Homo sapiens: one gene and its partners. The protein of the gene in region 3 purifies or fractionates together with the protein of the main gene of each other region. This does not show direct contact. Each region holds a gene or a part of one and is shown on either strand. Other genes may lie near its edges.

Region 1 (6,953 bases), on a different chromosome or scaffold from region 3:
AGAAGAAGCGGCTGTGGAGGTGACTCCCCATCCCATAAGGCTTAGAGATGCACATACATGTCCCCTACCTAACTCAAAAGCTGTGTAAAACCTAAAAGAACCCACTAACAATGCAACAAATTGGAAACAGGCTTTTCAGGGCCTTGGGACTCCCTGACAGAAGGCACCAGGGTGGCCAGCAGCCCATCTCACTGATAGCAGTGACTCTCTAATGACCATGTTCCAAGGGCTCACAACCCTGCTCCTTACCAACTACTCAGCATTCCTACCAGTCACAAGCCCCAACTATAAGCCTGGCTGGACAGAAGCAACCCTTACTCCCTCTTGGGGAGGCTCCCCAGTTGTTGGCTTCCCCAATTCAAGGTCATCTTACTTCACAATGACACGCTAGTGAAAAATATTGGACTGGAAATGAGAGGTGGGGCTCCAGCCCAGAAGCATTAGCAACTCACAATGGGACTCTGGGACTCCAGGCAAGGCCTCCCTGTTCCCTGGGGCTCAGACTTCCCATTTGAACATATGGGAGAGGTGGTGGGTTCATTTCTTAGGCTTCAGCTCTCATTTCTGTGATTTTGGGAGCAAAGGGGGTCTGTGGAGCCCAGCAGGGGCCTCCGTTCATCAGGGATTCTGAAGGAGCCCAGATGTTCCCTCAAACTCACCAGAGACACTTTCTTCACCAAACTCCTAGTCCTTTCTGAAGCTTGTGCAGACTTAGAACAAATGTTTGCTGAGAACCTACCAGGGGCCAGGCACTTTGAGAGGCACTAAAGAAACATGAAGAAGTAAGAGAATTGTCTTCAAGCAACCATTTTTCAGAGACAGAAAGTGAGTCACAGAGAGGCCTCAAATTTTACTAAAGACAACACAGCTAAGAATTCAACCCCCAGGCTGCCTGATCCCTGCAGGTTATCTCCCAGGGCTCCAGGCCGGGTGAGACTAGCACTGGGATGTGAATACCACCAAAATCCCTTCCAGACACAGGGTATGGTCAGCTCTATGAAACTGGGATCTATTAAAAACAGGCAATCAGAATCCAGGGCAAACGCTGGCTGGCTGAGTGGATCTTCTTCTGAAATGCCCAGCCTGTCCCCCAAACCCATCTCCATACTGGGCCTGGACACTACCTTCTAACGTCCTTCTCTGAACCATCCATCTTAGGCAATGAGTATCAGCAGACAAGAGCCAGCCACGTGACCTCCATAACCCTCATGTACACACAGCACAGTAGCACTGTTCCTGGGCCCACCCAGTCCTCCCACAGCTGCCTTTCTTTTGGGCCCCCTTGTCAGAGAGGCACCAACCCAGGTGAACAGGACTGGTCTGCAGAGGCAGAGCTGGGGTCCTGTCCCGCAAGGACAGCCTTCTCCCAGAGCAGAGCTGACCAGAGCTCAGTTTGTCTCCCTGCAGCCCCATGCGAGAGGCCTCTGGAGGGATGCTCTGAAAGCCACTCCTTCCTACAGGTGGCAGAGGGGTCCCTGCCCTTCAATCTGGGCTTCCCGCCTCTAGGGACTAACCTGGTTTTCAGAGATGTTTTCCTGGGGAGGGAGCCGGGCAGCGGAGAAGCAGTCTCCCCCTCCCCCAGCTCTGGCCGACTGCCAGGGTGACCTCCCCTCCCCCAAGAAGGGCGGTGAGCTGGGAGGTGGGGGTGGGAAGAATCCACCGATGCTCTCTGGAGGAGTGCTGGGAAGCTAGGCAGGGCGTGTCGCCTGGGCCTTTCTCTGCCCAGAGCCAGACTTCACAGCCTCTCGGTGTGAGGTGCCCCTGTATCATTCCCCAAATCGCCTCGAGTTGGGGTAGCCCTCACTGCAATTGCCCAGATCCCTGGGCAGCAAGGAGACTAACAAGCGCCGGCGAAGGGCAGCGGGTCTAGAACCTTCTGTGCCCAGTCGGACGTGAGCCAGGGGAGGTAGGCTCCCCGTTCCCCCATGGCCTGCACTCGCTCTTTCGAGCAGAGACAGGTGTCGCTCTTTTCTCCCCGGTGGCTGTTTGTCCCACGCCCTGGACGTGCCCTTTCGCATGGTTCCCAGCAGGGTCCGCAGGGAACACCCCTCCAGTGCAGCGGAGTGAGGCCCGGCCAGACCCCAGCTTCGCTTCGTTCTCCAAGGGGGGCGCCCGTCGCTCTCCCCACCCCCGCCAGCACCCAGCCACCTGCGCGGTCGCCCGCAGCCGGTGCCGCAGTGTGAGCTAGCCAGCGAGCCCGGTTCCTTCACGCCCTGGCCAGCGCCGCGGAGCCAGCCGCCGCCCTCCGGGCCCCCTGCAGCGCCGCACCTGCACCCACACCCCGGGCCCCCCACCCAGAGCCCACCCTCACCTCCACCCCAGGCTCCAGCGCCTCCTCCGTCCTCACCCTTGGCCCCTCCCCAGCCCGACCCCGCCCCGACCTCCCCATCCCTGTCCCTCTCCTCTACCCTGGCAAGGAGGGGCCTTTCCGAGCCTGGGCCGGGGGTCCCAATGGGGTGGGCGATTGGGCGGCGGGGGTCGACTCGGCGACAAGCCAAGAGATTAAGCCGGGTACTTACCGCTCTGCTCCCCCAAGAACACCAACTTGAATTTTCTCAGTGGATTCCCAAAATCTCCCCCTGCGGACATGGTGCTGGCAGCCGGGGCCGGGAGAGGAGGAGGAGGAAAAAGCGAAGGAGCAGGGAGGGGAGAGTAGGAGGGCGAGGGGAGGCGGCCGGCGGTGCGGGAGCCGGAGGGGGAAGGGCTGGCTGCGCGCGTCCCTGACTCCCCAGCTGCGTCCCGGTCCCGGCCTGCGGCTGCGTGTCCGGCGGCGGAGGAGGAGGAGGAGAGAGAGGCGGAGGCGGAGGAAGGCTGGGGCTGGGCTGCTGCGGTCGGCACTGGCTGCGGTGCGAGGGGCGCGCTCTTTACGCCCGAGGCGCGGCGCTGGGAGAGAGGCGCGGGCGGAGCGGGGCGCAGGGACGGCGCGCGGGGCGGAGGAGCGCTCTCCAGAGCCGCGCCAGTCGGCCCCCTCCCGCCTGCCTCCTCCGCCGGCGCCTGCGCTCTGTGCGCTCCCCAGCCTCTGATGTCATGCGGGGCCCGCGGGGCTGCGGGGCTGGGGGGCGTGCGCCCGCCCACCCGAGCCCGCACCCGGGCAGGAGAGAACCTCCTCGCCGTACCCCTGAGAGCCCCCCGGGGGGGACCGTGTCTCGCTGCCCCGCTGCGTCTGTCTTCCCCACTCTACCCCTCTTTTGAATCCAGAAAATGACAGAAATTGTCAGGGGACATTTGTTTCTGGTCTTTTAAACCTAGATGCCAGTCCCTTCCTCCACCTCGCGAGACACCGATGCACAGCGCAGTCGTCCGACCGACAGGGCGGAAAGGAACGAAGGTGGGGGAGAGCCAGGGTGTGGCGAGGCCCGTCAGGGCGGTCAGACCTAGGGAAACCTGGCGTACTTGGCGCAGATGGGGCTCGACTCTTGCCCCCCGTGGCTTCTAGCCCGCCCTTCCCTCTCGAGGCCTAGACCCTTTATTTGGGCGGCCTCTTGTGGAGTCTGTGGGTGCCCCCGCAGACCTGGCCAGCGAGAGAGGAGCTGCCAATATCAGGCGCGCCTACCTCAAACCAGCTGCTCATTTGGATCATTTTATGCCAAATCCTAACCTGCCCCATGGGAGAGAAGGAACGGTGACGCTCTGAATGCCAGTGCCACTATCTCCAGGACAGTGCCCTGCGTTTCTTGATCCCGGGGTCGCCAGGCTGACAATGCCACTCCCCACCCTGGCAATTAGGTGTATCTGGACAATGAGCTATCTGAGGACATGTGGGCGACCTCTCCTTGGCCTCTACTTGCCTGGTCCATCGAGGCACACAGACCAAGTTGTGAGTGAGTGAGAGCAAAGAGCAGACGCCAAGTGCTAGAAACACTCCCAAGACAGCCCGAGCCTAAGGCATGCTGGTTAATTGAGGTTTTACAAAGCTGTCCCTTACTGTTCTGCCACAGCGTGGTCTTGTTCATTTATGGCTGTTCAGTGAGCATTTATTTGAGATAATAATCTGCATGTCGGTGAACACGATGGTGTGTGCACGCATGTGTTATAGAAAGAGAAAGAGGAGTGAGACACAACCTTCACCTCCAGATTTCTCGTGGACACTTGTTACCCCCTTTTTGACTTATGGGGCTTGCTTGGGCAAGCCTATCTGTCTCCCTGGTGTGCTCACCTCGAATCTCTTTCCTATTTCTTGTTAGAAACCTGACCACAAGTTCCATAAAAGCAGTAGTTGAAGCTCCACCACTGCATCCCAAGGACATAGCTCAGAGTTTAAGAAATAGTTGTTGAATGTTTGAATGAACATCTAGAACTCAAATCAAAATAACTGTCCTATTCTCATAATTACCTTTAGTTTGGAACCCCAGGGATTGTAAGTCATCACCTAGAATATCTGCCCCGTTGTGGCTGGCACCAGGCTCAGGGTAACCCTCCAGACACCCACCCACTTCTCTGGGGCTCCTGCTCTCTTAGGAGACCATATCCAGCTTGGGGTTGAAGAAAGCTCTGAAAGGAGAGGAGACTCCCAAGTCACAGCCCTTCCCGTCTCTATAAGTGATCCCTCCAAAGAAGGGCCAGTGAGCTACTGGCCAAGGTACCCAGCCATGCAACACTCCTCCAACCTGCACCTTCTCCTAACATCTAGTGCTGTCTCCCTGTACCCTCTCATCCTGACCTGATGAGATCATCGGTGGCAAGACAAAACAGCTGAGGTGTGCCAGAAAAGGCACCATCTTTTGGGTAAGCCTAGGCAGGTCCTGTACCTCCTCTGATCATCTGGTCCCGCACATGTAAGGTGGTATGGCAGTAGGGGAGGGAGGGCTGGGGCAGGGCCCCTCTGGGCACCTCTAAGCCTCCAAGTCATCCCATATGCTTACCAGGTCCAGCTGGGCTGACTATGGTCCAGCTTACTTTGGGGGACTCTGTCATAATTCTTCCAGTTCAAATGACAAAAACCCGGCTCCGACTACCGGGCTCACGTCGCTGGAGCAGATACTGGCATTGCTCTCAGAATGCAGTCATCATGCTGTGGAAATGAGAGCCTTAGAGACTCCAAGTTTGCTCTGCTCCAAGTCTCTCTCCTCCAACTATCATTGCTTATCTCCCCTGATTTTGAGTCTTGTCCTTAACCTGCCCTAAAGCAGACAGACTTTCTCCAGGTGGAAAATGGGGCCACTGAACCTCAGCCTGGCAACCTCACTAGAAAGAGTTTCTTCCATATCATAGAATCTGTGCATTCCATTTAAAAAAATTCTTTAAATCTTCCTATTTAGTATGTGCTGTGTATATGTAAGTTACAAAGAAAACCTATCACTCTGAGTGCCCATTTACCCTCTACACAGCTGGAGGGCTCAAATATTATAGTACTTTTCAGGCCCCCAGGTGCTTTCTTCTCCTTCCTCCCTCCCCAACTTGGAAATCCAGAATCTTAGCTTTTCTTTGAGTTTTATCACATTGGATGTGTCCTTCACAATACTTTGTTTTGTTTTGCATCTTTTGAATCTTATATAAGGTATCAAACTGTGTTTTCTGTCCTGACTTGCATGTTTCTTAACATCATGTTTCTGAGATCCATTTGTTAATTCATGTAGCAGCAGTTCTTTCATTTTCACTGCTGGTTAGTATTCTAGTTATGCCCCAATTTTTAAATGATTTTCTGTAAAATGTGTCATTTAAAATTTTTATTTTATTTTATTTTATTATTGTTGTTATTATTTTTGAGATGGAGTCTTGGTCTGTCACCAGGCTGGAGTGTAGCGGCGCCATCTCGGCTCACTGTAACCTCCGCCTCCCAGGTTCAAGCAATTCACCTGCCTCAGCCTCCCGAGTAGCTGGTACTACAGCCACGCACCACCAGGTCTAGCTAATTTTTTTATTTTTAGTAGAGCCGAGGTTTCACCATGTTGACCAGAATGGTCTCAATCTCTTAACCTCGTGATCCGCCTGCATCAGCCTCCCAAAGTGCTGGGATTACAGGTGTGAGCCACCACGCCTGGCCTTTTTTAAAATTATTTTAAATAATTTTATACTCACATAGAGGTTATAAAAAACAGTGCAGGGAGTTACTATGTATCCTGCACCAAGCTACCCCAGTGATAACATCTTACATAACCACATTGCTTAGTAAAACCAGGAAATTAACATTGGAAAATGCACTCAGTTTTGTTTCTGCTATTAACAAACAATGCTGCCATCAACATTCTTTACATGTCTCTTGATGCCTCTGTGAAGTTTTTCTAAGATATGTGTCAGTAGGTAAATTGTGGTATAAAAACAAGTGTACGTTTAATTTTGTGCCAAACTATTTTTCAAAGATATTCGTTAGATCATATAGCACTACAGCATCATCTATATTTTTCATTTTCTTCAAGATCTTGGTTTTCCTGAGCCCTTTGCTGTGTTATATATATATATATATATATTTAAATTAAATTTTTGAGATCATTGTAGATTCACAAACAGGAAAAAAAAAAAAGACAGATCTGTATATCCTTTATCTAGTTTTCACCAAGAGTAAGATCTTGCAGAACTTTATACTACAGTATCATAATGTGGATACTGGAATTAAGACAGTCAAGGTACATTTCTGTTCTGTACCTTGACACACAAAGAGCCCTCATGTTCCCCTTTTATAGCCACACCCACTTTCCTCCCACCCTCAACCCCTTCCTAACCTCTGGCAACCACTAATCTGTTCTTCATTTCAATAAATGTGTTATTTCAAGAATCTTATATAAGTGGCATTACACAGTATATCACCCTTTGGGATTGTTTTTTTCACTTCACCTGGCTGGAGCACTCAAATATTACAGTACTTTTGAGGCCCTCAGGTGTTTCTGCCCCTCCCTCTCTCCCCAGCTTGAAAATCCAGAACTGTGGCTTTTCTTTGAGTTTTTATCACATTTGGATGTGTCCTCCAACAATACTTTTTTGTTTTGCATCTTTTGAATTTTATATAATGTCTCAAA
Region 2 (7,022 bases), on a different chromosome or scaffold from region 3:
TATTTTTAGGTCTGTTAGAATTCCACAATTCAGCTTTCAAAGACTGTAATCTATGGCAAAGCCTTGTTTCTTCTTAATAGCATTTACCACATTTACAATTATCTTATTTTTTATGTGTTTGTTTTTATTTCCCACAGAAGAATGCAACTCCCATGAAGATAAAAACTATTCTTTTTTGTTCAGTGTGTCCCCATTGCCTAGCGTAGAGCCAGGCTCATAGTAGCTGTTCAGACATGTTGGGTAAATGAATGATGGCTGAATCTAGTAGTAACGAAAGCTAGTAGCCTATGTTACACTCTTTGACATGGTTACGCAATTGATAGTTTAACAATAACACTTAAAACTTACATCATTTGATTGTATACAGGAATATATCAGATACTTAAGGGGGTAGAGAAACCAATCGTTTAGAGGCCCAACCATTTCATTCAAAAAATAGGACTGACCTGAATTTTGTACTTTTTTTTGAGTTGAGCAAAATTCGTCTTCCTTTATTAAAGTTGTTAAATTATTTGCTATTAATGTAACGCATGAAAAGTATTCAAATTATACCAATGATGTGCTCATGGAACTGATTTGAAATTAGGTTTTATTTGGCTTATCAAAAATTTAAGATACTAGGCTGGGTGCGGTGGTTCATGCCTGTAATCCCAGCACTTTGGGAGGCTGAGATAGGTGAATCATCTGAGGTCAGCAGTTCAAGACCAGCCTGGCTAACATGGTGGAGTCCCCGGCTCCCCCCCACCCCATGGCCCGGTCTCTACAAAAATACAAAAATTATCCAGGTATGATGGCGGGTGGGAGCCTGTAATCCCAGCTACTCAGGAGGCTGAGGCAGGAGAATCGCTTGAACCTGAGAGGCGGAGGGTGCAGTGAGCTGAGATCATGCCATTGCACTGCAGCCTGGGTGACAGAGTGAGACTCTGTCTCAAGAAAAAAAAAAAAAAAAAAAAAAAAAAAAATATATATATATATATATATATATATATATATGTATGTATATTTAAGATACTACGCTCTATAGTGAAAATGAATTGTGTCAGTACATGAAGCAGATTGAGTTAATGACATCAATCTTAACCTTAGATAAATTCTTACGGTTTAATAAAGGAATGTTTGGCTGGGCGTGGTGGCTCACGCCTGTAATCCCAGCACTTTAGGAGTCCGAGGCAGGCAAATCACCTGAGGTCAGGAGTTCAAGACCAGCCTGGCCAACATGGCAAAATCCCATCTCTACTAAAAATCCAAAAACTAGCTGGGCGTGGTGGCGTGTGCCTGTAATCCCAGCTACTCAGGAGGCTGAGGCAGGAAAACTGCAACCCAGGAGGTGGAGGTTGCAGTGAACTGAGATTGCCCCACTGCACTCCAGCCTGGGCCTCAGAGCGAGACTTTGTCTCTAAATAAATAAATAAAGGAATGTTGAAATACACAATTGGAAGTTTCCTTGAGGAGTCTGTTTTGTTACTACCTCTGGCTATTGTCTTGAGATGCAGAGGCAGTTTTAGTAATGTCACTCAGTGGTTTACAGTAGAAGATTTCACTATATATACATGTTACCAATTATAAATTAGGAGATGTAATGGCAGAGAGAAGCGCATACTCAGCCTACTACTGTTTTTTTCACTTTATATTGCCTTTTCTTTTTTTCCATCAATGCTGATCAAATTGCAATATGTTAGATAAGGAAAAAATGTCTTATTGTCAGAGACTAGCAGTACTGACCAGTTGTTTTTCTTTTGAGACGGGGTCTACCTCTGTCACTCAGGCTGGAGTGCAGTGGTGTGATCTCAGCTCACTGCACCCTCCACCTCCCAGGCTCAAGTGATCCTCCCACCTCAGCCTCCCAAGTAGCTGGGACAACAGGCACGCACCACCACGCCTGGCTAATTTTTGTATTTTTTTGTAGAGATGGGATTTTACCATGTTGCCCAGGCTGGTCTCAAAGTTTTGAGCTGGCGAGATCCTCCGGCCTCAGCCTCCCAAAGTGCTGGGATTACAGGTGTGAGCCACCACGCCTGGCCAGTACTGAACATTTTATATTGGCTAGATCAGTGGTTTTTAAACTTTTTTTCCCCAAGACCCCTTTCTGCTCTTACAAATTTTTGAGGATCCTGAAGAGCTCTGTTAATGTAGTTGTTATTGTTGTTCTTCTTCCTCCTCCTCCTCTTCTTTCTCCTCCTCCTCTTCTTCCTCCTCCTCTTCCTTCTCCTCCTCCTCTTGTTCTTCTTCCTCCTCCTCCTCTTCTTTCTCTTCCTTCCCCCTTCTCCCTTCCTTCCCCCTTTCCACCTCCCCCTTCCTTTCCTTTTCTCCCTTCCTTCCTCCTTTCCTCTTCCCATTTCCTTCCCCCTTCTTGGATGCAGTGACTGTTCACAGGGGCTATCATGGCCAACTGCAGCCTTGTCTCAAGCTCTCCTCCTGCCTCAGCCTCCCTAGTAGCTGGGACTATAGGCACATGCCACTGTGCCTGACTTTTGTTTATGTAGTTTATGTCAACATTTAGGCCGGGTGCGGTGGCTCACGCCTATAATCCCAGCACTTTGGGAGGCCGAAGTGGGTGGATCACCTGAGGTCAGGGGTTCGAGACCAGCCTGGGCAACATGGCGAAACCCCGTTTCTACTAAAAATACAAAATTAGCCGGGCATGGTGGTGCGTGCCTGTAGTCCCAGCTCTTCGGGAGGCTGAGGCAGGAGCATTGCTTGAACTCGGGAGGTGGAGGTTGCAGTGAGCCAAGATCGTGCCACTGCGCTCCAGCCTGGGCAACAGAGTGAGGCTCCATCTCAAAATAAATGAATAAATATATCAACATTTACTGTATTGAAAAAGAAAATTTCAAAATATTTAATATGTTAAAAAATAATAGGGCCGAGCGTGGTGGCTCATGCTTGTAATCCCAGCATTTTGAGAGGCCGAGGTGGGCGGATCACTTGAGGCCAGAAGTTTGAGACCAACCTGGCCAATATGGTGAAACCCCGTCTCTACTAAAAATACAAAGAAATTAGCCTGGCATGGTGGTGGACGGTCCCAGTGGTAGTGCCAGCTACTCAGGAGGCTGAGGCAGGAGAGTCCCTTGAACCCGGGAGGTGGAGGTTGCAGTGAGCCAAGATCACGCCATTGCACTCCAGCCTGGGCAACGAGCAAAACTCCATCTCAAAAAAATAATAATAATAATAATAAACCCATTGCATGTTAATACCCTTTTTTTTTTTGACTGCATCCCTCTGTTGCCCAGGATGGAGTGAGTGCCTCCCGGGTTCGCGATTCTCATGCCTCAGCCTCCTGAATAGCTGGGACCACAGGTACATGCCGCCATGCCTGGCTAATTTTTTGACTTTTTAGTAGAGACAGGGTTTTGCTATATTGGCCAGGCTGGTCTCAAACTCCTGGCCTCAAGTGACCTGCTTGCCTTGGTCTCCCAAAGTGCTGGGATTACAGGCATGAGCCACTGTGCCCAGCCTTCATGTTAACATCATTTCTGAAATGAAAAAGAACTATTTTCCAAACAGATATTTAGTGAGAGTGACATTGTTTTACATATTTGCAAATCTCTTTAATGTCTGACTTAATAGAGGACAATTGGATTTGCATAGCTGCTTATGCATTCAATCCTGTAATATTACACATCATATAGGCACGGGGAAACTCCACAATACATTTCAAGAGAGTAAGAGTGAAAAATTCAAATAACATCTTAATCTTATGAAAATGGTTTTGACATCCAGGAGTTTGTGGACCTCCCCAAAGGTCTTGGGAGATCCTAAGGGGTCAGTAGACCACTCTTTGTAAACTGCTGGGTTAGGTAATATCAAGTCAATTGTATCTCCTGTTATAATGTTGCCAGTTTTTCATATCTTGTTCTGAAGCCTTAAAACTGCGTGGTACATACAGTTAATGATTTAGAGCACTAGAGGACTGGTAGAGATGGAGAGTAAGAGTCTAGGTTTCATGTTTTAGCAGTGGCTACTGACCTTTGGCAGATTACTCAACATGTCTTTATGCCCCATTTTTCCTTATCTATAACATAAAGATAATAGACCTATCATAGAGTTATTGTGACATTTAAACTAGTCAAATAATGCAAAACATTTAGAAGAGTGCTGGGCACATGAGAAGTGCTCAGAAAGTGTTTTAATTTAACAAATCTTTATTGAAAATTGCTACAGTGTCAGGTGGTTTGGTAGTGCTTACTTTTAAGGAATTTACGTTTTATCAGGGAAGAAATACACAATACTTAATACAATATAGCATGATGAGTGCCACTGCTTTTAAAAGTAGAGCTAAGGCTGGGCGTGGTGGCTCACGCCTGTAATCCCAGCACTTTGGGAGGCCTAGGTGGGCAGATCACTTGAGGTCTGGAGTTTTTTTGTTTTTTTGTTTTTTTTTCAGACGGAATCTCGCTCAGTCACCGAGGCTGGAGTGCAGTGGCGCAATCTCGGCTCACTGCAAGCTCTGCCTCCCGGGTTCATGCCATTCTCCTGCCTCAGCCTCCGGAGTAGCTGGGACTACAGGCGCCCGCCACCATGCCCGGCTAATTTTTTGTACTTTTAGTAGAGACGGGGTTTCACCGTGTTAGCCAGGATGGTCTCGATCTCCTGACCTCGTGATCTGCCTGCCTCGGCCTCCCAAAGTGCTGGGATTACAGGCATGAGCCACTGTGCCCGGCGAGGTCTGGAGTTGGAGACTAGCCTGGCCAACATGGTGAAACCCTGTCTCTACTAAAATACAAAAAATTAGCTGGGCATGATGGCGTGCATCTGTAATCCCATCTCAGGAGGCTGAGGCAGGAGAGTCACTTGAGCCCGGGAGGCAGAGGTTGCAGTGAGTGGCCATGTTGGCCAGGTTAGTCTTGAACTCCTTGCTGTCTCACCCAGGCTACAGTACAGGGGTGCCATTATAGCTCACTGCAGCCACGAGCTCCTGGGCTCAAGTGATCCTCCCACCTCAGCCTCTGGAGCTGTTGGGATTAGAGGCATTCGCCATTGCGCTCGGCTGATTAAAAAAAATTTTTTTAGCAAACGAGGTCTTGCTGTGTTGCCAGGCTGCTTTCCAACTCCTGGCCTCAAGTGATTCCCGCCTCAAGCTCCTGACTCTGGAATTACAGGCATGCACCACCTCACCTGGCTTGGACTTTTTATTAGACTTCCTGATTTTATTTCATCTGGTCTCTTTCATTTCCTTAAGCTTCTGTTTTAATTCTCATAAGATTTTTCTCAACTTTCTTCCATTTTTTTATTATTTTTTTCTGCTATCATTTTAATTTTTTTTTTCTTTTTTTTGAGCTGGAGTCTTACTCTGTCACCCAGGCTTGAGTGCAGTGGTGCAATCTCAGCTCACCGCAACCTGTGCCTTCCAGGCTCAAGTGATCCTCCCACCTCGGCCTCTTGAGTAGCTGGAACCACAAGCATGCGCCACCAAGGCCGGCTATTTTTTGTATTTTTGGTAGAGATGGCGTTTTGCCATGTTGCCCAGGCTCATCTCGAATTCCTGAGCTCATGCGATCTGCCTGGCCTCGGTCTCCCAGAGTGCTAGGATTACAGGCATGAGCCACCGTGCCAGTTCTTATCATTTTAATTTCAAAGAGTGTTTTTGTTCATCTTCTGAATGTTCCTTTCTGTAGCATCTGTGTTTTTGTTTTTTTGAGACAGAATCTTGCCCTGTCACCCCGGCTGGAGTGCAATGGTGCAATCTTGGCTTACTCCAACCTCTACCTCCCGGGTTCAAACGATTCTCATACCTCAGTCTCCTGAGTAGCTGAGATTACAGGCATCTGCCACCATACCTGGCTAATTTTTGTATTTTTAGTAGAGACGTGATTTCACTGTTTGTCAGACTGGTCTCGAACTCTTGACCTTCAGTGATCTGCCCCCTTGGCCTCCCAAAGTGCTGGGATTACAGGTGGGAGTCACCACACCCAGCCTTCTGTAGCATCTTTTTAATTCCCAATTTTTACCTTTTCTTGTCATTTTGAAGATGTTAATAAGATACATGACTTTTTTCTTCCTGCATATTTAGTTTTTGTAAATTGTTTTTCATCTCTGCTTGTTTTAGTTTCTCTATTTCCTGTTTGATGTGGTCCTCAAAAAACTAGTGTTTCTTGGCTATTTGCTTCTATTTAAGAGGTGAGCACTGAGAGTTGTGTTTTTGTTTTTGTTTTTTATGCTCTTGTGTGGGTTTGTGGGTCTTTACTGCAGAATGATCTTGCTGAGTTCCTTTTTGGGAGTCTCTGATGTTAGGTCTTTAAGTCTTTTTGCTGGTCAGATTCCCTGAAGAAGAATTACTCAGTGCACTGCTGGAGAGAATCTTGGTTGTCAGTGTTCTTGGAGGTGAATGGAGAGAGGGTTTGAAGTCATAACATACAGTAAATGCATTTAGTCTCCTTGCTTTTAATATTGTTTGTACTCTATCCCTCAGCTGTACCTTGTAATCCCTAGTACAGAAACCCCGTTTTTCTTTCTCAGCAGCATTATCTTCTAATTTTCAGCTGTGTTGAACAGAAGAGGGAATAGAAGAGAGTGTTAATCTACTTGTTAAATAGACTTTCATCCCTTCCTTCTGTTTTTAGCTCCATCTTTACCTTTATTTCTAGATGTACTTGGCCCAGACAATTCCTAAGTCAATGGGGGTTCTGTGGTCCAAATCAGCTTTCTCAGCTTTCCCCATTGTCGGTTTAAAATTGATCATTATTGAGTCTTTTAGGTCAATTACTACTTTTCCATTTGCTTTCTACTTTCTAACTTGGATGATTCAGATTTTCCGAGAACCAACACTTAATACTTGCTTAGGGTTGGTTAGTTGGTTTGTTTTTTGAGACGGGGTCTTTCTGTGTTGCCCAGGCTGGAGTGCAGTCCATTCACAGGCATGATTATAGCGTACTACAGCCCGGAACTCCTGGCTCAAGTGATCCTCCTGCCTCAGCCTCCTGAGTAGCTGGGACTATAGAGTCAGGCCAGTGAGCCTGACTCTTTTCTTTTTTAAAAGTACACTTTGGCCGGGGGGCATGGTGACTCACACCTGTAATCCCAGC
Region 3 (7,298 bases):
CCCCATCACTGTTGCCTGGTCTTTCTGGGTAGACTGTATTGCTATCCAGAAAATATACAGCTGAGCACACAGCAGCTCCCCACAAATGCCTGTAAATGGTCCTCTAAGACCTAGCCTATCCCTTGTCCCTTCAGCTATCACTCTAGGATGGCTCGGGGCCCTTCCAAAAGTTGTCTCTAGTTCTCACAGCAACATTCCAGTAGAGAGCATTTACTACCTTTTAGGGACAAGGAGAGTGAAGCTCAAAGATGTTCAGAGGCAAGGTCACCCAGGGAGAAGGCCACATCTGGGTCCCAGGGTCCATCAGAGCCCTGTAGGGGCGGAGCTGCAGGTTCCGTTCCTACTACAGACTCCAGTCCATCTATGCAGCACAATCTTTAAAAATAGAGAAGAGTGCTGCAATTTGGCCAGGGTACGCATACCTAGGCCTCTGGGCATTCAGACTGCGGCAGACTGGCTTGGATTCCCAGACCTTCCCCCGTGTGACCCAGGGAGACATGCTTACTCCCTGTGCGGCCTTGGTTTCCTCTTCTATGAAGTGGAGATTGTAACACTTGTTTTTCCAACTGCCCAGATGCACTAGAAAAGGGACAGTTAGTGCCAGACGCCCAGTGGGCACTCCTCGGAGTTCCCCCAAAGCTCCCAAGGGCTTGTGGGAATGTAAGGGTCTAAGTAGTGCCTGGATGTCTGTACTGCCCTCGGCTTCAGACCTCCTGTTCTGGCCTCAGCCATTCCAAAAATTCCAGGGCAGGTCTGGACATGCCTGCCAGGCTGAAGCTGCTCAGACACCACCTGAGATCCCCAGTAAATCTGAATATGGCCTAGGCCTAGGGACTGCCTGTGAGCTACACAACTGTGTTCCCACCAGCAACTGTGACTGCACCAGTGGCAGGTGGGGATCCAGGTGACCCTCCTGATCCCTGTGTACACGGACATCTGCCTGAGGTGCCCCCTCCAGCACCTCCCTACCCCCTGCCCACAGGCCAAGGTGGGCTGGATGAGCAAGCCCATCTAGGCCTCCCAGAGCAGAGGTGTGGGCACTGAACTGGGGAAGGGGCAGGAGATAGATCTGAGGCTCACTGTGCTTTGTGCCCTCTGACCCTTTGCAGTCCCCACCAAGGATCAAAATCACTCACCGGGGCTCAGGGTGTCCCCCATCCTGTAGACAGCCAAGGTCTGGCTGGAAAGGAGTAAGAGGAGGAGAAAGAGGAAGGGAGGCAGTGGGAGGAGCTGGCCTAGCTTGCGGGGATCTAGCAGGACTCAGCCAATGTAGCTCCAGGTCCCTCCAGTCACCCTGTAGGGGCCAAGGCGTGGCCAAGGTGGGGCCAGCAGCTAGGCTCAGCTCTGCCTGCCCACTGGTCCAGGCTGATCCTGGGGATGCAGCCCAGTCTACCCTCTGGGGAGAGAGGTCCTCCCAGGGTTAGGGAAGCAGGAATGCTGGCTTTTGCTTTGACCACTTGAATCAAGCTAGGGGCAGACAAGGGCATGGAGGCTGGGGCACTCACACAGCTGTCAAGCCTGTAAAACCTCTGCAATGTCCAGCAGCCCATGCCACTGTCCTGTGCTACCTCTGCACATGGCAGTCAAGTGATACACACACATAGCCATCATTCACATTGGGCATGGATCATCTCAGTCGTGTCACCATCACAGATGGATCAGAGGTCCAGACAACGTCACCTGACACGTGTCAACCACACACTTCCTACATATCTCCATCATGATCGGTCACAGATATCACAGGCATTTATCATCAGTCAAATCACCATCCTCATCACTGTCAACCCTGCAGGAAACAGGGGCTGTGAGAATGCCCTGACCTGAACCAGCCTTCACCCTGTGATACCCACAGCTACACACTTGTACAAGCACAATTACACATGCATATGCCACTACGTACACAGACACATGTCCTCAGCCGTGTTCGTGCTCCGAGGGTGGGCCTTAACAAGAACAGCCCTCTGGGGGGCCTCCTGGGGTAGGAGATAGAGAAAGGGCTGTGGAGAGACGCGGGCACCTGGGAGGAAGGAGGAGGGAGATGGGGCTTACCTCTCGGCCCTGGCACCTAAGTTAAAGAGTTAAGGTGCTGGAATCTCAAACCCAGGCTTGACTGCCCCTGGGCAAGTTATATAACCGCCACCCCTCCCTTCACTGCTTCCTAATGAGAGTAACAGTACTTATCCCAAGGGTGATGCTGGAGGATTAAACGAGTTAACTCACTTCAAGTGCCTAGACACGTCCGGCTCCATGTGAGTGCTTCACTGAGGCCCACTGTCCCTACAGATCTACACCGGCGCACTCACGGGCAGTTACCCATAGACCCCCCAGTAGGCACACTCTGGCCAGAGTGCAGGTAGGCGCAGAGAGGCACACGGAGGGGTTTGGGCAGTTGGGGAGCGGATCGTCTCAAAGGCAAAGACGCTGAATCTCAAATGAGGAACCGAGGCGAGAAAAGGATGTGGGATTCACCGAAGTTGAAGGGCCGGGAAGGGCCTGAGATGGGGTCTCGGCCCTGTCCCCAAGCCGGGCGGCCCGGCCGGCTGGCCTCCCTGGGCGGCCACGTCTGCAGCCCCCGCCCGGGGCCCACAGGGGAGGAGCTGGGGTGGAGAAAGCGGCCGGGCGCGGGCGCCGGGGGCCGAGGAAAATCGTGTCTGCGCGCGCAGGGCGGGGAGCCAGTGGCAGCGGCGCGGTCCAAAAAAAGTTGAGTCCGCACCGACGTGTGCGCGCAAGGTCCCGGGATAGGTGCGGGCGCGGGCCCGGGATGGCGGCCCCGGGTGGCAGGCCCCGCTGCCCCGCCACGGCCCCTCAGAACGCGCCCTCACCGTCCGAGTCATCCAGCTCGGCGCGCTCCCCGTAGTCCACCCAACTGAGCCCCTCGAGGTTGTCATAGTCGCCGCGCCTCGGCCCGTCCACTGGCACCACGGTGAAGTGAGGCATCGTGCGGGCTCGGCCCCGCCGCACCCGCCGTCCCAGCCGCCCGCCGCTGTCCCCGCCGCTGTCCCCGCCGCCCCGGGCCGACACGCCCCGCCCGCTCGCATTCCTCCCCGCTGCGCTCACTTCCTCCGCCCGCCCCCCGGGCCGCCCCTCGGGGGCGGAGAGCGGGAGGGGCTCGGCCGGCTCCTCCCAGAGCGGGGGCCCTGGTGGCGGGAAGACCCCTGGGCGGGAGCACTCCTAGTGGCTCCACGGCCTGGGGGCGGGCCCGATTCCTGTGTGACCTCGGGTGAGAGGCCGCCCTCTCTGAGCCCCAGATGCAACATTTGTAAAATGGGGGAAACACACTTCCACCTCGGGGTTGTTTTAGGGCTCCGTGAGATGGGTCGCGGAGTGTCCTGGCTCTGCGCCCTGGGCTTACGAAGCGCTCTGTTACTTAGGGACGGGGCAGGGTAGGCCGGACCGGCCCAGGACTGCAGAAGCCACCTGCCCAGGGCCTCCCACCAACCCCGTATACCTCCTTCCCATTTCCAGCGTCTGCATCCCATTTCTCCGCGACCCTGGGAACCAGACCCCCGCGAAGGTCCCGTCCCAGCCCTGGGCCCTCTAGCTGCAGCCTCTCCTGTTGGAGGCAGCTGGGGATTCTCGGTCCCTCCCCAGGGGCTGCTGCGTCCTCCGCAGGAAGAACACGCACACCCACCCTTCCCCGCCCCGCTTGCCTCGCTTGCCTTTTTGGGACAGTGCACTGGGTGCTGTAGCCAAGTCCCTTCATTTTAACTTTCTCTATCTCGCCTCCTGGGTGTTCCTCTATCCAAGCCGTTTACTTATTTGCTTTTAACGTTTCTTTCACTTTCTTCTCCACTGCTTCAGATTACTTATCTAGCTGGCTTTACTATTTTTTTCTCTATCAGAAAACCCCAGAGCCCATCTTACTTGTCTATCTCCACTCTTCTCCCTCGCGTGGCTCGGGTGGCGTCCTCTGACTACGCCTACTGCCAGCCTCCAGCCCTTGGGGTGGGGGGTACGGAATCAGAGCCGCTGGGCCCCGCAAGACGACCCCCGAGCTTACCACCCTCTGACCCCTCCCCCAGGGCCCCCGCAGCGGGCCCGCCGACCTGACCCCCCCGCCCCTCACGCCACCTTCGGCCGCCCACAGTAGCGGCCTTCCTACTGGACTCCCTGCCCTCGCCCCTGCTCACGTAGAGCCGCCTCTTCTGAAGGAAAATCCTACTAGCTCCGGGCCCATAAGGCCCTGCCCAATGCGGCCGGACCCCGACCTCTGCAGGCGCATCCCTCGCCACCCACCTCGCAGCCTCAGCCCTTCAAATCTCTCTCTCTCACCTGAGACCTATAGTTTCTGGGCATCACCCACTGTTCACTCTGGGGGACATCTACCTAGCCTCTGTCCCTACCCTCACTTATCAAATTCCTGATCCAGGCCTGGCGCGGTGGCTCACGCCGGTAATCCCAACACTTTGGGAGGCTGAGGCGGGAGGATCACCTGAGGTCAGGAGTTTGAGACCAGCGTGGTCAAATAGTGAAACCCCGTCTCTACTAAAAATACAAAAAAATTAGCTGGGCGTGGTGGCGGGTGCTTGTAATCCCAGCTAGTTGGGAGGCTGAGGCAGGAGAATCACTTGAACCCGGGAGGCAGAGGTTTCAGTGAACCGAGATGGCGCCATTGCACTCCAGCAAGAGCGAAACACTGTCTCAAACAGACAAAAAACCTCCAAGGCCGGCCTGGTGGCTCAAGCCTGTAATCCCAGAACTTTGGGAGGCCAAGGCGGGTGGATCGCCTGAGGCTGGGAGTTCGAGACCAGCCTGGCCAGCATGGTGAAACCCCGTCTCTAATAAAAATACAAAAATTAGCTGGGTGTGGTGGCAGGTGCCTGTAATCCCAGCTACTCGGGAGGCTGAGGCAGGAGAATCACTTGAACCACGGAGGCAGAGGTTGCAGTGAGCCGAGATAGTGCCATTGCACTCCAGCCTGGGCAACAGAGCAAGACTCTATCTCAAAAACAAACAAACAAACAAAAAACCTCCTGATCCAGGAGGTCTTGGTGGGGAGCACCACCTCCCCTCAGATTTCTCAGACACATGCCCTGCCACCCCACCCCACCCCTCATCTGGACTGGGCTGCCCTGAGCCTTTCCCTTCATAGTTCCCATTGCAGGCAGAAATGGATTGGTGGAAATCACTGATTAAGATTCTATCTATACTGTGGACTTTGCAAGGGCAGGACCCTGTCGGTCTTGTCACTCTGGTATCCTCAAAACCTGGCTGGCCCCAACACATTTTTTTTTTTTAAGATCTTAGAGGTGTTTGTTTGTTTGTTTTAATTTAGAGAGAGGGTCTTGCTCTGTCACTTTGGGCTGGAGTGCAGTGGTGCAATCACAGCTCACTGCAGCCTCAAACTCCTCAAATGATCCTCTCCCCTCAGCCTCCCAAGTAGCTAAGATGCCACCATGCCCAGCTAATTTTATTTATTCATTTCTCATAGAGACAGGGTCTCACTTTGCTGCACAGGCTGGTCTCAAACTCCTGGGCTCAGCGATCCTCCCACCTTGGCCTCTCCTAAAGTGCTAGGATTACAGTCGTGAGCCACTGCTCCCGGTCCCAACACATTTTTCAAATAAAGAATGAACAGGTGCCCTCTTAGTCTACCTCTTTGCTCTGCAAAGTTTCCGTATAGCTCCCACCCTGGCACTGCACACCCTGCAGCCTCAGGGGTAGGGTGGGGTGTTGTGCCAGGGAGATAGGCCACTAGAGCCCAACTGACAAACACAGAGGGGACGATGGGGAACTCCGAGGCCAGTACACATCTTCTCCAATATCACAGCCATCACAGGAAAAATAACCTCACAGGCCAAACTCAAAAGACATTTGAGGAGCATAGACATTAGGCCGGGCGCGGTGGCTCACGCCTGTAATCCCAGCCCTTTGGAAGGCTGAGGTGGGCAGATCACGAGGTCAGGAGATCGAGACTATCCTGCCTAACACGGTGAAACCCCGTCTCTACTAAAAATATAAAAAAATTAGCTGGGTGTGGTGGCGGGCGCCTGTAGTCCCAGCTACTGGGAAGGCTGAGGCAGGAGAATGGCGTGTACCCGGGAGGTGGAGCTTGCGGTGAGCGGAGATGGCGCCACTGGCACTCCAGCCTGGGCGACAGAGTGAGACTCTGTCTCAAAAAAAAAAAACCATAAATCAGGAATATCTAGAATATCTAGATCGAAAATTCAAAATTCAGTTGGGAGTGGTGGCTCCCACCTATAATCCCAGCACTTTGGGAGGCCGAGGCAGGCAGATCACCTGAGGTCAGGAGTTCGAGACCAGCCTGGTCAACATGGTGAAACCCCATCCCTACTAAAAATACAAAATTTGGATGGGTGTGGTGGCAAGCACCTGTAATCCCAGCTACTTGGGAGGCTGAGGTGGGAGAATTGCTTAAACCTGGGAGGTGGAAGTTGCAGTGAGCTGAGATGGCACCACTGCACTCCAGCCTGGGCAACAGTGCAAGTTGCCTGGGCAACTGCACTCCAGCCTGGGCGACAGAACAAGACTCCATCTCAAAATAATAATAATAAAAATAAATAAATAAAATAAATAAATAAATAAAATAAAACAATTAGCCTGGCGTGGTGGCATGTGCCTGTAGTCCCAGCTATCTAGGAGGCTGAGGCAGGATAATCACTTGAACCCAGGAGATGGAGGTTGCAGTGAGCCAAGATCGGGCCACTGCATTCCAGCCTGGGAGACAGAGCGAGACTCTGTCTGAAAAAGAAAAATTAGCCAGGTGTGGTGGCACATGTCTGTAATTCCAGCTACTCCGGAGGCTGAGGCACAAGAATTGCTTAAACCTGGGAGGCGGAGGTTGCAGTGAGCTGAGATCATGCCACTGTACTCCAGCCTGGGCGACTGAGCAGGACTCCGTCTCAAAAAAAAAAAAAAAAAAAGCAGGCCAGGCACCATGGCTCATGCCTGTAATCCTAGCACTTTGGGAGGTCAAGGTGGTTGGATCACCTGAGGTCAGGAGTTCAAGACCATCCTGACCAACATGGTGAAACCTCGTTTCTACTAAAAATACAAAAATTAGTTGGGCGTGATGGCAGGCACCTGTAATCCCAGCTACTTGGGAGGCTGAGGCAGGAGAATTGCTTGAACCTAGGAGGTGGAGGTTGCAGTGAGTCAAGATCGCACCATTGCACTCCAGCCCGGGCAACAAGAGCAAAACTCCGTCTCAAAAAACAGAAAAAAGCATGTGGTGGTTAACTGCTTAATGGGTATAGGGTGGGTGCCTGGGACTACAGGCACACACTACCATGCCTGGGTCTTACATTTCTGCTTGTTCTTTTTCTTTCATTTTTTTT

What was found. The genes of interacting proteins can lie anywhere in the genome.
Region 1: the proteins of SLC12A4 (region 3) and RAB6B purify together in Homo sapiens (co-immunoprecipitation; 3 studies listed by BioGRID and IntAct, with this or other methods). This does not show direct contact.
Region 2: the proteins of SLC12A4 (region 3) and RAB6A purify together in Homo sapiens (co-immunoprecipitation; 2 studies listed by BioGRID and IntAct, with this or other methods). This does not show direct contact.

The regions. Positions count from the first base shown.
Region 1 is NC_000003.12:133,892,878-133,899,830, forward strand, and holds the start of RAB6B (ras-related protein Rab-6B), read right to left. Parts: upstream 3,006-6,953; 5' UTR 2,590-3,005; coding exon 2,520-2,589; intron 1-2,519. UniProt on the Homo sapiens protein: The small GTPases Rab are key regulators of intracellular membrane trafficking, from the formation of transport vesicles to their fusion with membranes. Rabs cycle between active GTP-bound and inactive GDP-bound states.
Region 2 is NC_000011.10:73,751,070-73,758,091, reverse strand, and holds part of RAB6A (ras-related protein Rab-6A), read left to right. Parts: intron 1-7,022. UniProt on the Homo sapiens protein: The small GTPases Rab are key regulators of intracellular membrane trafficking, from the formation of transport vesicles to their fusion with membranes.
Region 3 is NC_000016.10:67,965,617-67,972,914, forward strand, and holds the start of SLC12A4 (solute carrier family 12 member 4), read right to left. Parts: upstream 2,938-7,298; coding exon 2,823-2,937; intron 1,179-2,822; exon of another isoform or gene 1,159-1,178; coding exon of another isoform or gene 1,137-1,158; intron 1-1,136. UniProt on the Homo sapiens protein: Mediates electroneutral potassium-chloride cotransport when activated by cell swelling. May contribute to cell volume homeostasis in single cells. May be involved in the regulation of basolateral Cl(-) exit in NaCl absorbing epithelia.